Linked DNA regions of Homo sapiens: region 2 is linked to region 1. The links come from fine-mapping of genetic effects on gene expression. A gene starts in region 1. The other region holds a variant in brackets. All regions are shown on one strand. Distances are from middle to middle.

Region 1 (8,981 bases):
GTCCAAACTCCAACAACAATCTTCTGAAGTGTTCTGTAGTTTCTCATCTAATCGATCCTGCACTCAACTGACAAATTTTCCTATACCACAGATGTGATCCATCACTTAACTACATAAAAATGTTTAGTGGTCTCTCAATAGGTAAGTCAGATTAAAATTCTTCAGCTTGGCATTTTAGATCCTACATTATCTGGTCATTAGCTATTACTGTACTACTTTTTCATGTCTGTTACCCACTATTTCCTTACCTTTTGCTCTAGCCAAACAATGCTGTTTAATCATATCCTGGAAATTCATAAAATGTTTCCTATCTATCTTCATTTATGTCATTTCTCTTCCAACCCCAGACCAACTCCATTCTGATTAACAGTCTCATTTCTACCTTTAAGAAGTTTAACCCACCTTTGGTTCAAATAACACCATTTCTCTAAAACGTTCTCTCCATTCTCTGAATCTATAATATATGTAAAGGTCTTTTATATAACTTATACTTTTACTTCTATTATAATTTGTGTATGTGTCATATTGTTCCTGCTAAGATTATAAATGTGAAACATGAATATCTTTTTATCTTTGTCCTCCCAGTACACTGTAGTACAGTACACTGCACAGTTGATATCCAACAAACACTAAATGTATGTTGAATCTGAAATATGACATATACATAAAATAGTAGCTATGGCCATAAAGTTATATAGGACTTTTCTTTCACTCTCTTGTGTAGGAAATTATTGCCATGAGAATATATATATATATTTTTTTTGAGACAGAGTTTCCCTCTTGTTGCCCAGGCTGGAGTGCAATGGCATGATCTCGGCTCACTGCAAACTCCGCCTCCCGGGTTCAAGTGATTCTCCTGCCTCAGCCTCCCAAACAGCTGGGATTACAGGCGCCCGCCACCACACCCGGCTAATTGTTTTTTTGTATTTTTAGTAGAGACAGGGTTTTACCATGTTAGTCAGGCTGGTCTCCAACTCCTGACCTCAGGTGATCCGCCCGCCTCGGCCTCCCAAAGTGCGCGCCCGGCTGAGACTATCTTTAAAAATCAACCTTATTTATTTCTTGAGACAAATTAAAAAGCACTTCTCCCTCCCCTCATCATTAACCAGTATACCTTCTACCTTCTTATGTGTACATGAATTGTTATACTAACTTCCTTGGCCCAGATATAAAACTGTTCCCCAAGGTTTCAATTTTAAATTATCATATGTACCTACTGATCATACATGAAACTGCCTTACCATTGAAGAGAGTTTAGAAGGAAACAGATTGCCTGAGGTTGACTCAAAACCAACCTACAGTGTACTGGGAGGCATGGTACAATTATACCTTTCTGTTTCTGCTTATCCCCCAACTAGATAATATGTACCAACCCAAATGTTTGTTCAGATGAAGACTATATCTTCAGGTTCAAAAGTTGAAAATAATAGGTGGCTTTAAGTTCAACAATTTGCCAAAGATTTACTGAATTTCTATTTGAAAAGCACTGTGGGGAACACAAAAAATAATAAGACACTTTTCATCTTCTGGGACTCATGATTAAATGCACAGCACACACATAAACAACTTTATTATATGGTAGATTACGTAAGTGCTAAAAAGCTTCTAACAAGGTACAAACAGTGCTTATGAAGAGACAGATTAACCAAAGAGTATCAGAGATGGCTTCAAAATGAGAGATAGGTTTCTATTTGGCCCTTTTTAAAAATCAAGCAATAGCACTCAAGATTTTGAAGATTATTTTTAAGTAGATAATTTCTTTTAGGTATTTTTATTCACCAGTGTTGTAACGGAATTGGATTTTTTCCACTGAAAAAGTACGGATTTAACATGTAAGCTAAAATGTTAAATGGATTGTTTAAGGCTCACCTGGAAACATGGGAAAATATATTTTGCAAGCCAAACTTGAACTTACAGTCCAATATCAGATAGGGTTATTGGACATACTGTATATTTCCTTTGAACATACACACACTTATCTGTGTATGTATGTTCAAAGGAATTTTATTTCAAAGTGTATTTTATCTGTGTATGTTCAAAGGGAACACACATAAACGTGTGTATGTTCGACGGAAATATACAGCTTGTCCAATAATCTGATATAATACCTATTTAAAAATCTACTTTAAGAGAAAGGCAGACACGCATAAATGGGCCACCCAATTTTTACAGAAATTTGTTCAGCATATCGAGTACTCACGTTAAAAAGAAAAAACAACTGAAAATAAAATTCAGAGCCCTAGACCTTTTTTGATTCATACCACCTCCTCCGTCAACCCTGGCCTCTTCCAGATATATGGCCAAAGGTCGGGATCAAAGCCTGAAGCATTTGCTGTTCCAGAAAACTCTATGGACACCATTCCCAGGTTTAGATACTTCTTGAAGATTCTGAGTTGCACCACCTAACTCTGAACGTGTTGAGCACTGTATTAACAGATGAAAGGACCACATTCATCTCAAGCTTTAAATAACTCGCACAGAAGGGGTGGGAAAAGTCCCAGCTGACAGATGCCAAGGGAGCAAATTTTAAAAAGAGGAAATTATGACAGACAGGAGTGGAAGCAAACTGGGGAACTTAGTACAAGTCGCTACTATTAAAAGAAACTTTGAGCTCTTAATTACATGACAGCATTCATCAGACGTTTCTGTGATTACTGAATGTAACAGTTAAGCAATAGATGATGTAAAAAAATTAGGTCAAATGTATATATCGTTTTATAAAACATATTTGCTCTTAAATCTCTCATCCAAACCAATCTCTTCAGATTAACTATAAATACAAAGGAACTAAAATCAGATTATGCAGATTAGACAGGAGGAAGCTGGGAAAGAATAACTACCATGTAAGTTCGGTAACAACGTTACAGGGCGCAGTTTCCTGCTACAGAAGACGGACGAAGGAATCCAGAAAATAGGCTGGGCACGGGAATATTGCACACTGTAGTCACCCAGCACTAATTCAACAGCTAGCGGCTCTATCCTGCCTCACGTTCCTCGTGGCCTCTGACAAGTCATCCTTTCAACCTATGAGGCTGTCCGCTCTCCCCCTTGGAAAATAATTTCCGTGCAGGTTGTAAGATCTCCCTCACAAACTACTTGCTTCCACTTCCCCGCCCGGGATGAGGAGTCTCCACGACGGGGAAAGGTCGCACTGACAGAGAAGGAAGTTACACGAAGTGGTAGTGGTCGGACCCGAGCCTCGAGCTCAGTACACGCGGGGGAAAAGGAAGCGGGCGGCCTCTGGAGAAACGGGGATGGAGCTGCAGATGCGAGCCCGCGAGGCAGGCTCCGTGGTGCCCGGGCACCGGCAGGAAGAATGGAGGAGGGGAGGCGAGGCTGCGAGGTGCCGGGGAGCCGGGCGGCGGTCCGGCCCGCGGCCGACCCCACCCCAGCCCGCGCTCGGGACCCTCCCAGCCCCGGCACCCGGCGTGCGTTCCGCGTGCGCCGACTCTCCCCGGAGGAACAGCCACCGTCTCACACCCGGGGACTGGAGAAATCCGGCAACTTTGCGCGAGAAATGCTTCCCACCCTGCAGCACGCCGAGAAAGAAAAAAATGTCAGGCGATGACGGCGGAGGAAGGATGACTTACCCATGTTGCTCCCCGAGGGTGAGGAACCGGCGGGGCGAGGCGAAGGTCTGTGGTGCGGGCGGCGCGGCTCTGTGTCCTCCCTCTACCTCCGTCTCTCCCGCAGCCAGGGAGGGACCCGCGGGGGGCGGCCGCCGGGGAGGAGCAGCTGGTGCTGCTGCAGGCGGCGCGGCCGCGGCGGGGACGAGCGGCGGGGGGCGGGGCGGGGCGGGGCGGGGCGGGACTGGCGGGCGCAGCCTGCGGCGGGCGCGGCTCCGAGCGGGCGGGCGGCGGAGGCGCGGGAGCCGGCCTGAAGAGCTCCGGCCCCGACTCGCAGCCCACGAGCGCCCCGCCCTCCCCACCGAGCATGCTCAGTGCCTTTTCCACCCCTCCCTCTGTGGCGAGCGAGGCTAAGCGTGCGGGTGGGCGTGTGTTTGCAGACCGGCTGCAGCCGCGGCAGAGGATCTTCATGGCGGCCGCCTGAGAGGCGGAGGGCGGGCCCGGAGAAAACAGGGAATGGGGATATTGAGCCCGATCTGCTAGCAGAGGACTCACCGCTGCCTTGCTTTCCCACCCTGACCCACCAACCCCTCACCCGGAACCCGGGCTTGCCTTCTTTACGGGACGACCGGGCCGCACAGGCCGGAATTAACCGGAGAAGAGGCTGGGCCGCCGCAGAGCCGGGAGGGGTGGTGGGAAGCCAGAGCTGACGAAGTTGGAAAGGACGTGTAGGCGACTAGGCCTGCGCCTCTTGGGGACACCTGAGGACGCCCGCTGGGCAGCTGGCTGAGGAGGGGCCGCCGGGAGGGCGCTCGATAGCAGGCGTGTCATTGGGACACTTAAGGCTGCTCTAGCTGTGGCCAGCTTAGAAACAAAGGTCCCGGCAGCGAGGAGAGCGCCCGCCCCAGGATTTCCTCGAAGAGTGTGTCGTTCTCCCTCCCGGAGGAGCGCGGCCTTCCGTTCCCCGGAGGGCTCTGGAAAGGCCCTTTAACCGGGGTGCCGTCGGGCTCCATCCTGCTGTGAAAGCGGGAGGAACTACGTTCCCCAGGCTTGAAAATAAGCGTCCTGCTGGGTTGGCTGCGGCACTGCCAAAGCTAACCCGGCGGAGGTCCTTTGATCCCGGGGCCACCGCCCGCTCCCACCACCACCTCGGCCTCGGGGAGAACCTGAGCAGGGCTCTCCCACTGAGGGCGTCCTCCCGACTGGGCATGCACGTGAGGCCGGGGCTGGCTTCGGTCCTCTTCCCTGGGGTAGGAGGCTGGAGGAAACCGATTTCTCTGCACCCTAATCTTGCCCTGGCTCCTCCTGAGTGGGGTGAGGAATCTGGTCGCTCTCCAAGGCTACAGCGACCGGAGTCCTTCAGGGGACACTGTGCAGTCAGCAGTACAACCTGTTGGAGAAAGATGGCTGAATCGAGGTGTCTTTCCCCTGTCAACTTTCACTCGGTCAATCCAATGTTGAGAAAGGGCTTTTTTTGTTTGTTTGTTAATTAGTCGCCTATTCTCACAGTCATCAGTTTCTGCTTGGTGACTAGTATTTCGAGCACACAAATCAGAAGCGACCCTGTAATTTGTTAAGCAAAGAGCAGATTTTATGTGATTTTTCTACAGCAAGAAACGATAATTAAAAAGGTTTGGTAAAACAGGAAAATACAATTTAACTGCTGAAGTCAAATATATGGGACTTTTCTGATGCATGAGACTATCAGGCACCTCACTCTTAGGATGTTCTTCTTGTTTGCCTCTTAAAATAATCGCACTACATTAGTTCCCTAGGGCTGCCGTAACATACCACAAATTGGGTGACTTAAAACAACAAATTATTATCTCACAATTCTGGAGGCCAGAAGTTTGAAATCAAGGTGTAGGCAGGGCTGTACTCCCTCTGAGGGCACTGGGGAGGGATCTCGTCCATGCCTCTCCTAGCTTCTGGTAGTTTCTTGGCATATGGTAGCGTAACTCCAATCTGAACATGGCTGTTCTCCCAGTGTGCTTGTGTGTTCAAATTTCCCTTTTTAATAAGAACAGCAGTCATAACGGATTAGGGGCGAACCATCCTCCAGTATGACCTCATGGACGTTAATTATATCTGCAATGACCCTATTTCCAAATCAGGTCACATTCTAAGGGACTAAGGGTTAGGACTTCTACATATGAATAGGGCCAGCCTGGCCAACATGACGAAACCCCATCTCTAACTAAAAATACAAAAAATTAGCCAGGGCCAGGCACAGTGGCTCACGCCTGTAATCCTAACACTTTGGGAGGCTCAGGAGGGCAGATCACTTAAGTCAGGAGCTGGAGATCAGCCTGGCCAACATGGCAAAACCCTATTTCTACTAAAAAATAAATAAAATAAATAAATTAGCTGGGCATGGTGGCACGTGTCTGTAATCCCAGCTACTTGGGAGGCTGAGGCAGGAGAATCGCTTGAACCCGGGAGGCGGAGGTTGCAGTGAGCTGAGATTGCACCACTGCACTCCAGCCTGGGCCACAGAGCAAGACCCTGTCTCAAAAAAAATAAAAATAAAAAAAAAGAATCCGGGAGGGGTACACAATTCAACCCATAATACACCAATGCAGACCCCACCCTCAGGGCCCCTCACTGCCCCCACATCGGCCATGTTACACATTAATTTTATTACTCCTCCAGAAGACCAGCCTGGGCCTTTGCATTGCTGCTCATCATTTTTTGTTCATCTCTCCTTAACACTCATTAATCTCTTCCAGATTGTCAAGTTAACTTGCTTTATTTTTCCTACTTCCTTATCTAATTACATATTATAATAATTTCATGGAGTATCTTCTATCATTTATTTGGATGTAAGCGTTGAAATTAGCAAAAGCAGCTGAAGTGGCTTTCTCATTTCCCATCTGACACTAGTTAAAGTGCCTTTTTTGTTCTACTTCAATCTACAAGCCATCTCCTTAGCCTTCCTGCCAATTAAAACCAAAGGATTGTTCAGGCTTAGTGCATATACTGAGTCCTAATGCACCGGTGTTGTAACCATAGTGAGAACCAATACTGATTGTTATATGCAGAAGTGAATTACTTCCAGACTGGTATATTGCCTACTCCTTGCACACACAATGCCACCTCCCTTCCCCTCTCCTTTCTTGTTCTATTATAAGAATATAATGTTTCTGTCTCATATCTTTACTTTCTTCCTTTATGTCTTTATTCAAAAGTTACCTGCATGATGTCTTCCCTAGTTATCTTATCTAAAATTTCAACACTCCTTCCCATTTCATATCCCCACTTCTATACTTTATTTTTTTTCCTTAGCAGTTATCAATAAGATAATATATATTTTGCTTTTGGACTGTCTCCCACATTTAAATGTAAGTTCTCCTAGGGAAATAATTTTTGTCTGCTGTATTTACCATTATAACCCCCGTGCCTAAATAGTGCTAGCACATAGCAAGTGCTTAATAAAAATTTGCTAGGTATGGTGGCTCACACCTATAATTCCAGCACTTAGGGAGGCCGAGGAGGGAGGATCACTTGAGGTCAGGATTCTGAGAGCAGCCAGTACAAGATAGCAACACCTTATATCTACATCTCTTGACATCCCTGATGTCAAGAGACTCTTCCAAAATCGATCTACTAATACCCATACTGTATGTTAGGCAATGGTCAGGATTTTATCAGGCCTGCTACAAAACAAAGGAAGTTCTGGCCCAGTGCAAAGGTTTTCAACTTCAATCTAGGAAATGTCATATTTATAAAGTATCACGGATTTATTTGAATAACAATTTCTGTTGAAAATTGGTTTATGATTACTAAATAGCTGTTATGGGGGAGTATCAAGGAAAATGTCTTTTAGAAAAGATCAGAAGCAGTACATTTTGGCAAGACTTATAACTTACCTCATTGATGCATGTAAGCTTAAAGAGGTTAGAAGGTGATTTAAATTCTTTAGAGGAAATCTATTGGGAGGGGCAACACAACAAGAAGTGGAAAGAGAGGAGAGAATGTTCTTTAAAAGTATAATAGGGAACTGATTGCCTCCTGTTCACCATGATGTTCTGAATATCATTTAAGGGAATTTCACTGGAGTAGTTAATTGAACTTTGCGGTGATAGAAAATGATTTGGCAGTGAACAGCCTTCTGCCTAAACTGTTTATTTTTCAGAGACTTCATTGGTGAGATCAAGTTAGTCCAGGTTGAACAACTGAAATGTCTTAACCTCAATGTAACCTCTTTCTCCCCCGCTCTCCATTTATTTAATATTTTAGCCATTTTCTAAATGTTGTAAAATCTAAATTATTTTCATAGGCTGTCACCTCAAACTAATGTCTACATGTTTCAAGCAACAACAGACCTAGATTACATACAGTTTTTAGATGGGATATACCACTTTAAAATCAGTCATGTAGTTATTGAACATTTCTTCTGAGCTCAGCACTGTGCTAGATGCTATAAAAGAACAGCTATAAGGGCCAGGCGCGGTGGCTCATGCCTGTAATCCCAGCACTTTGGGAGGCCGAAGCGGGTGGATTACGAGGTCAGGAGATCGAGACCATCCTGGCTAACATGGTGAAACCCCGTCTCTACTAAAAATACAAAAATAAACCAGGCATGGTGGCGGGCACCTGTAGTCCCAGCTACTCGGGAGGCTGAGGCAGGAGAATGGCGTGAACCCGGGAGGCAGAGCTTGCAGTGAGCCGAGATCGTGCCAGTGCATTCCAGCCTGGGCGACAGAGCAAGACTTCGTCTCAAAAAAAAAAAAAAAAAAAAAAAGAAATAGCTATAAGTACATATCATGCAAAACAAGAGAGTAAGAACAATCTCTCTTAAAAGTCTCTTCCTACTAGTTAAAGATAGCTGTATAAGGAGAACATACCTGAAGAATGGATAGAATTTTTCCGAGAAAGGATGGGAAGAAAAGAATTTACTCCAAGACAGGGAAACAGCATGTGGTAAGACACCTATAGGCCATATTCATAAGACCATTAAAAAGGGTACATATTGGCCGGGTGCGGTTGCTCACACCTGTAATCCCAGCACTTTGGGAGGCCGAGGCAGGCGGATCACTTGAAGTCAGGAGTTCAAGACCAGCCTGGCCAACATAGCGAAACCTCTTCTCTACTAAAAATACAAAAATTAGCTGGGCGTGGTGGCGCGTGCCTGTGGTCCCAGCTACTTGGGAGACTGAGGCAGGAGAATCACTTTAACCCAGGAGGTGGAGGTTGCGGTGAGCCAAGATCACACCACTGCACTCCAGCCTGGGTGAGGGAGTGAGACTCTGTCTCAAAAAAAAAAAAACAAAAAAAAACCAAAAAACAAAAAAACGATGCAGGGATACTTATTGTGGCATCTTGAGAAATAAGATTAAAAATTTAGTATGAAGAACAGATTGTGAGGGGCTGAAAAAGCCAGCCAGAGGAATTTAAACTTGTTAAGTTAGGAAA
Region 2 (8,981 bases), 100 kb before region 1:
CATTCTCATTTATTTATGACTTCCTGAAATATATACCAACTCAAAACAAATAATCTGGCATATCTCCATTCCTTTCTCTTTTTATTAAAAAGCAGTGCATAATATGGATCTCAGTTAACCAAGATGAGGTAATACATACAGTATTAGTTTGTTTTCACGCTGCTGATAAAGACATACACAAGACTAGGCAATTTACAAAAGGAAGAGGTTTAATTGGTCTTATAGTTCCGCATGGCAGGGGAAGCCTCACAATCATGGCAGAAGGCAAGGAGGAGCAAGTCACATCTTACATGGATGGCAGCAGGCAAACAGAGCTTGTGCAGGAAAACTCCCCCTTACAGTAACTATCAGATCTCATGAGACTTACTATCATGAGAACAGCACAGGAAAGATCTGCCCCCATGATTCAATTATCTCCCACTGGGTCCCTCCCACAATACATGGGAATTAAAAATGAGATTTGGGTGGGGACACAGCCAAATCATATCATTCCACCCCCGGCCCCTCCCAAATCTCATGTCCTCACATTTCAAAACCAATCATGCCTTCCCAACATTCCCCCAAATTCTTATTTCAGCATTAACTCAAAAGTCCACAGTCCAAAGTCTCATGTGAGACAAAGCAAATCCCTTCTGCCTATGAACCTGTAAAATCAAAAGCAAGTTAGTTACTTCCTAGATACAATGGGGCTATAGGCATTGGATAAACACAACCATTCCAAATGGGAGGCACTGGCCAAAACAAAGGAGCTACAGGCTGCATGCAAGTCTGAAATCCAGCAGGGCAGTCAAATCTTAAAGCTTCAAAATGATCTCTTTTGACTCCATGTCTCACATCCAAGTCACGCTGATGCAAGAGGTAGGTTCCCATGGTCTTGGGCAGCTCTGCCCTCTTGTTTGCAGGGTATAGCCCCCATCCTGGTTACTTTCATGGGCTGGTGTTGAGTGTCTGCAGCTTTTCCAGGTGCCTGGTGCAAGCTGTTGATGGATCTACCGTCCTGGGGTCTGGAGGATGGTGGCCCTCTTCTCACAGCTCCATTATGTGATGCCCCAGTAGGGACTCTGTGCGGGGGTCCAACCCCACATTTCCCTTCTGCACTGCCTTAGCAGAGGTTCTCCATGAGGGTCCCACCCCTGAAGCAAACTTCTGCCTGGCCAACCAGGTGTTTCCATACATTTCCTGCAATGTAGGTGGAGGTTCCCAAACTCAATTCTTGACTTCTGTGCACTCGCAGGATCAACACCACATAGAAGCTGCCAAGGCTTGGGGCTTCCACCCTCTGAAGCCACAGCCTGAGCTGTACCTTGGCCCCTGCTCACCATAGCTGGAGTGGCTGGAAGGCAGAGTACTAAGTTCCTAGGCTGCACAGAGTAGGCAGGCCCTAGGCCCGGCCCACAAAACCATCTTTTCTTCCTAGGCCTCCAGGCCTGTGATGGGAGGGGCTGCTGTGAAGACCTCTGACATGCTCTGGAGACGTTTTCCCCACTGTCTTGGGGATTAACATTCGGTTCCTCCTTACGCAGATTTCTGCAGATGGCTTGAAATTCTCCTCAGAAAAATAGAATTTTCTTTTCTGTCACATAGTCAGGCTGCATATTTCCAAACTTTTATGCTCTGTTTTCCTTTTAAAACTGAATGCTTTTAACAGCACCCAAGTCACCTCTTGAATGCTTTGCTGCTTAGAAATTTCTTCTGCCAGATACCTTAAATCATCTCTCTCAAGTCCAAAGTTCCACAAATCTCTAGGGCAGGGGCAAAATGCTGCCAGTCTCTTTGCTAAAACATAACAAGAATCACCTTTGCTCCAGTTTCCAACAAGTTTTTCATTTCTATCTGAGACCACCTCAGCCTGCACTTTATTGTCCATATCACTATCAGCATTTTGGGCAAAGCCATTCAAGCCTGTAGGGGTCTAAACTTGCCTACATTTTCCTGTCTTCTTCTGAGCCCTCTAAACTGCTCCAATCTCTTCCTACTACCCAGTTCCAAAGTCGCTTCCACATTTTCGGGTATCTTTTCAGCAGTGCCCCACTCCTGGTACCAATTTACTGTATTAGTTTGTTTTCATGCTGCTGATAAAGACATACCCAAGACTGAGCAATTTACAAAAGAAAGAGGTGTAATTGGACTTACAGTTCCACGTGGTTGGGAAAGCCTCACAATCATGGCTTCAAAGGCAAGGAGAAGCAAGTCATGTCTTCAATGGATGGCAGCAGGCAAAGAGAGCTTGTGCACGAAAACTCCCCCTTATAATAACCATCAGATCTCATGAGACTTACTATCACGAAAATAGCATGGGAAAGACCTGCCCCCATGATTCAATTACCTCCCACTGGGTCCCTCCCACAATACATGGGAATTCAAGATGAGATTTGGGTGAGGATGTAGCCAAACCATATCACATATATATTAAATACTTATTAACTCACCCATATTATGTTGAAAAGAGAGTGAGAGAAAGAGAACCACCACTTGTATTTACTTCAAATGACAAACATTCTGAGTAAAGAATCTGTTTGTTTCTGTCCTATTACTTGCTTCTTACTGTTTACGTTAAGGTTTCTCTGGTCACTAAAGACTTCTTTTTGGCTGCTCATGGACATGATAATATGGTTTTGCCACTTTCATCCCCGTTTTATTTCACTTAAAGCACAGAATTAGAAAATATTTTGTTAGAGAGCTACTAAACTGAAAAGCTTACTTTGCTGTGCCAATAGAGATATTTAAAAGGGTATATTAACAATCAGTAAAAATCGAACAAAAGTGATAAAAAGTAACATTTAAAAAAAGTTAGATGTGTATAAATTCCTTATATCATTATTGCAGGAAAAAGTGAATTTATTCAGAACAATTAGAAGGACAGTATTATTTTATTTTTTTGAGACAGGGTCTTGCTCTGTTGCCCAGGCTGGAATGCAGTGGCACAATCTCCACTCACTGCAGCCTCGATCTCCCAGGCTCAAGCGATCCTCCCACATCAGCCTCCCAAGTAGCAGGGTCTATAGGTGCATGCCACCACAACAGGCCAATTATTGCACTTTTTTGTAGAGAGGGGATAGGGGGTTCCGCCATGTTGCCCAGGCTGGTTTCAAACTCCTGAGCTCAAAGGATCTGCTCACCTCAGCCTCCCAAAGTGCTGGGATTACAGGTGTGAGCCATGATGCCTGGCTCAATTTTAATTTTTCTTTATACACCTTGTGTGTAAAGAAAACAATACAAAGCAATAGATACTTGTCTGCAAACTTGAAGAACATACCTGTATTTGTCTAGCTGGTTTACTGGGAAGAGTCAAACTCTCAAATTTTTAATTGGGTTTCCTTAGGTATTACTAAGAATCCAATCAAATCTGAACATCCTTTATTCCCAATGAGTTTAAAAGGGAAGTCAGTATTTCACACACTTCTCTACAGAGAAAATGTCAAGAATAAATCAAATATAATAAAGAATGTTTATTCACATACATACTTTTTTTTTCTTTTTTTGAGACAGGGTCTTCTTGCTCTGTCACCCAGGCTGGAATGCAGTGGCCTGATCAGAGTTCACTGCAGCCTTGACTTTCTGGGCTCAAGTCTCAGCCTCTGGAGTAGCTGGGATTACAGGTGTGTGCCACCACGCCAGGCTAATTCTTTTACTTTTTTGTAGAGATGGGATCTCCCTATGTTGCTCTGGTGGGTCTTGAACTCCTGGACTCCAGTGATCCTCCAGCCTTAGCCTCCCCAAAATGCTGGGATTACAGGTGTGAGCCACTGCACCCAGCCCTCACATCATACTTTTTTTTTTTTAAATAAAGCTTTTATACTTGGAAAAATGTAAAAAGTTTTTCCTCCATCACTTGGTTCTACTCTATGTTCTTTCAATTAGGTAAATTTTATTTTTGTGTTCTTTAAACAAATTAAACAAAATGTTGGCTTAAGAACAGCTTTTAGTAAAATCCTTAAAACATATTCCAAAACCTGCGTGCTCAGAATTATTCACACTGAAGCATAAATGTATTTAATGACAGTGCATTTATGTATTTGACAGTGATAACTTCCTCAGATATATTTACGGAAACAATGAACCTGAGATCTGGTTTTCAGATCAACACTATCACCAATTTAGCTGTTGATTCTGATAAGTCACTTGAATTTTCAGGTCTCAGTTTTTTTATCTGTAAAATTTGGCAGGGGTGGCTGAGATGACTTTTAAATTCCCTCCTACGTAAAAAACTATGATTTCAAGGTAGTTTTATTCACTTAAGCTTTCTAATTTCTCTTGGTTCCCTGAATCTACATATTCCATCTAAGAAACAGTTAACAACATTTTGCTAAATGCAGGAGATTATTTTAACTTTTTGAATATTTATTCCCCAAAGGTAAAAGAATATAAAGATATAGAAATCGCCTATGTGCCATTTCTTCTTGTGTCTCTATGAAGAATCTCAGACTTAATAATGCCTGCAGCAAAACAAAATAAAAACAAGCAGCAATGACGGAAAAACCCAGAAACAAAAAACAACCTCTGTTCTTTCCTACATCGGCAAATTGCCCCATCTTCTGTCCAGGTACTCAAGTCCTAGAAATCACTCTTGATTTCTCCCTTTCGCACTTTCCCAATCCAATCCATCACTCCAAATACTTTCTAAGTTCCTCCTCCTTCCACACTACCATAACTTAATCCAAGTTACCATTATGTTGTGACTGGACAATCACAAAAGTCTTTCAATTAGTCTCAATGCTTCCCTTCTTAACTCTTAATTTCCATGCTTCTCAACTCCTTTTCCATGCAGCTCCAAGAGTGATGTTTTTAGAATCCAAATCAGATCATGTCACTTCTTGCCTTCAACAACTTCTCACTACTTCAAGATGATTCATGAGGCTTTCTATCATCAACACTTTTGTTTGTTTCTTGAACTTTATCACACAATACTCCCTGTTCACAGTATCTTGCATAACCTGGTTTCCTTTCTGAATTTCTACCAAATCCCTTGCCCTCTCAGGGCTTTACAATTACTACACTTTTTTTTTTTTTTTTTTTTTTTTTTT[G/TG]AGACAGGGTCTCACTGTTATTTAGGCTGGAGTGCTGTGGTGTGATGGCTCACTGCAGCCTAGAACTCCTGGGCTCAAGTGATCCTCCCACCTCAGCCTCCAGAGTAGCTGGGATTACAGACACGTGCCACCATAATGGCTCATTTTTTATTTTGTAGAGACAGAGTCTTGCTGTGTTGCCCAGGCTGGTCTCAAACTCCTGGCCTCAAGCAGCCCTTGAGCCTTGCCATCCCAAAATTCTGGGATTACAGATGTGAGCCACCACACTTAGCTCAATTACTCTACTTCTATAAGGAATATTCTTCCTCTTCTCTTAGCTGGCTCATTCTCATTTTCCAGACCTCAGCTTAAATAACATCCACAGAGAGAACTTTCTTCACCCTCAAATACACTCCATTATTATACATCACCTTCTTTATTCCCTTGATGTCAGTCATCACAATCTATAAATATCTTTTCTGTAGTATTTACTTGTTTATTATCTACCTCCTCCTGTGAAAGCCTCACAAGGATAGAGACTTCTTGCTCATTCTTTCCCCTATAATCCCCATCACAGGCAGTGTCCCCTAAACATAGTTGGTTCAATCAATATGTGTGGATTTAATTGTAGTATGTATACACCAAAGAATACAAAGACATAGAGTGAGAATTTCCTGGCATTTACTCATTATTTCATATCTTCTCAGTACATACATTTTGTAAGTACAATCATTACTATAAAAATATGTGACCTATATCCTCAAAGGGAGAGAACAATAATTTGTGGTGTTAAAAAGGAAGTTTTCACACTCAAAGAGATTAGAAGTCAGGGATGTAAATCATGAGCAGCAACGTATTTTTCTAAGTCTGAAATACTGGCCATTCTGATCTGCATGATTATGAAGGCTTTTTTTTTCCCATTCCTATTAAATATACTGCTTTTAATTTTGCCAAGTTCTATTTTAATTTCCTGGAGCAGGGAAATGGTAATAGACATACCTACATTGTGTTAGTTGTTGTCTGTTTTCAGACAAGGTCTTGCTCTGTCACCCAGGCTGGAGTGTGGTAGCACAATCATGTCTCCCTGCAGCCTTGAACTCCCAGGCTCGTGTCATCCTACCTCAGCCTCCTGAGTAGCAGGACTACAGAAGTGCTCCATCATGCACAGCTAAATTTATTTTTTGTAGAGATGCGATCTTGCTATGACGCCCAGGCTAATCTTGCACTCCTGGGCTCAAGTGATCCTCTCACCTTAGCCTCTGAAAATGTTAGGATCACAGCTGTGAGCCACCACATGCAGACCCTACATTGTTTTTCAAGATAAAGTTAAAATGTATTTATGAAGTCTACTAGGAAAGAAAATTAAATTCTAATGCTTACATTTCCCCCTATAATTTTGCCAACAGTGAATTTCTATTATGTACCTTAGACATAATCGAATGTTTTCAGCATTCAAATAAAAAAGCTCATGAATATCGTTTCTAAAACTCAAAACGCAATTTATTCACCTTCCAGATTCAGGCAAAATCCCTGAAAGACTAGATATAAAAGCAAAAGCTATAACATATTACATAAGTAAAATCACAAAAATGAGTCATGAAGAAAAAGCCACCATGACTGTTAAGTGCACACATATCAAAAGAGAAGCATGCAATTTGCAATTTTGTGACATTATATTCAGGTTTAAAAATCTGCATTTAGGTGGGAAAATTTCAAGGTGTATATACATTTACACTTGTAATGCCAGATCAGGAAAAGTAAATGAATTAAATCTTTCATTTCCCAAAGCACTAGTACCAAGGGCACAGCATAAAATGAGGTTATGGCCCAGCATTTGATGGACACAGTTTTTGGTGTGCCTGCTGATACTAGTATTAATTTCTGTTGTCCAACAGATTTCTCACATTAGTTAAAATTGTTCAATAATTCTACTTTTTCAAAAACCCTTTATCTAATAAAGGCTCCATAAATGGCAATACATTTCCTAAAGAAATTACTAAAGCTTTCTTTACTCCCTATATTTTTATATTTCTGTATCATTTTATTAGCAAAAGACTGAATATCTTTATACACAAATTATAAAGTCATTTAACTCAATTATTTCCATAAAAGTTACTTTTACATAGCATTTAGATAATAATGTATGTAATTTATTGTTCCAATTTATTACTCCAATTGTTCAAGATCAAAACGTTTTATAAATATTTTAAATATAAAAGGTGTTTTTGTACCAAACTATTTCATACTTAAATTATGCTAGACTATATATATATGTATATATATATGTGTGTGTGTGAGAGCAAATGCATATATAGTTATTTAGAATTTAATCTGAACTGATGACAGCATAGTTTCTCAACGGGTAAAAACATTTTACTCAGCAGGAAAAATGTAAATTATTCACTCTTTTTTTTTTTTTTTTTGAGACAGAGTCTCACTCCGTCACCTAGGCTGGAGTACAGTGCTGTGATCTTAAATCACTGCCTCCTGGGTTCAAGCAATTCTCATGCCCCAGCCTCCCAAAGCTGGAATTACAGGTATATGCCACCATGCCTGGCTAGTTTTGTTTTGTTTTGTTTTCTTTTTAAAAAGTAGAGATGGGGTTTCACCATGTTGACCAGACTGCTCTTGAACTCCTGACCTCAAGTGATCCACCTGCCTCGCCCTCCCAAAATGATGGGATTACAAGCGTGAGCCACTATGCCTGGCCCTGAATTATTCACTTTTACGTAGCATTTATTTTTCATATTTCCTCACCGCCAAGGAAAATGCACCCTACTTGTAGCAAGGAAAAGGCTGATTAAAAGTTGAGAAAGTTCTCAGTACTTCAACTTGGTTACAAATAAGAAAATTTTAAAAATGTAAACAAAACCCTATTAAAAAGAGCAGAGGATAATATGTGTTGACAGGGTTTCAATAAGCAGACTGGAAATCTTATGTTTCACATATCTAAACTTTGACTTTAACAGGTGAAATGAGAGTGGTAAAGGTAAGGGGAAAAAACAGATTTAGACAAAAAATGTTTTTAAACCCCCAAGTAGGCCTCTATAATTAGACTTTTCCCACCCTACCTAAGTCCTCTTAATGAGGAAAGGAAAGTTCTAAAGCCATTCAGACTTCTGACTCAGAGAATGGGGGTGGGGTTGGGGGGGAAGGCAACCATATATGACTTCTTATTGAACCCAAGAAAAATCATCTAATATTTTTGCCACGTGCAATACTCTCTCACAGGTTGCCTCTACTTTCGTATCTATAAAATTAAGAACAATTACTCGAAATTACTATTTCATGTCTTCCCTAAGACATTAGCTTTTTATAACATAGTATTTGGAAAGTAATCAAGCATGGGGAAAAAAGCAGTAATATGTGTTCTTTGTCCTACAATTTTAAGGTAAACTTTATAGAATCTTGGATTTCCAAACACCATTTAATAAAAGAGGGATTTAAATTTAATACCAAGTACAAAAATGGAAAGATCATAGTTTCTCAAAGTGTAAACTATCTGAAGAGATAGAGTACTTTACATTGCTTAAATAAACCTGGTGCAGTGCTACGCAAAAACCAGCCAAACTGATAATAAACTATCTGAGTACTGTCTCTCACTTTACAATATAATTTCGTTCTCTCTGCCGCAGTCACTATTTACCACACCACACCCGGCCTCCTGTAATGGCTTCCTGATATCTCTGCCTCACATCTCTGTCCATTCCAATTAGACTATATGATGCTACAAAACTGAAAATATCAATTTCTTCAAGTTACTTTCAGAGGCTCCTTCCTGTCCACATATCAAAGTCAAAATAATTCCTTAGCCTATAGACATTTTAAGCACACTATACATTAATGGATGCACAATCAAGATCTCTACCATAGCATACCTATATTACTATTTGGCTATTTTAAAAAATCGTATCTTCATGATTTACATGTCCTACAGCCCCAATTTTGAACTTTCCCCCAAAACCACAAACTTCCTAC

Direction of the effects. Positions count from the first base shown, and alleles are read on the strand shown. Sizes are in standard deviations (SD) of each study's normalised expression.
For the expression in CD4 T cells of the gene that starts at base 3,776 in region 1, allele G in region 2 goes with a higher level than allele TG (moderate effect, 0.61 SD a copy in Kasela 2017).

What was found.
Region 2: its variant is fine-mapped to the expression of RAP1GDS1 in CD4 T cells (Kasela 2017, PIP 0.95).

What each region holds. Positions count from the first base shown.
Region 1 is chr4:98,256,179-98,265,159 of GRCh38, reverse strand. It overlaps RAP1GDS1 (Rap1 GTPase-GDP dissociation stimulator 1), which reads right to left and starts at 3,776. Exons shown (of 15, transcript NM_001100427.2): 1 at 3,591-3,776. The coding sequence starts at 3,594. RefSeq lists silencers at 3,486-3,555, 3,656-3,955 and enhancers at 3,922-4,484, 4,236-4,535.
Region 2 is chr4:98,359,522-98,368,502 of GRCh38, reverse strand. The region is part of intron 4 of RAP1GDS1 (Rap1 GTPase-GDP dissociation stimulator 1); the gene reads right to left. Among named protein-coding and RNA genes, the nearest start is that of RAP1GDS1, 100 kb to the right of the region's middle. The variant G/TG (reference allele first, on the strand shown) is at 5,025.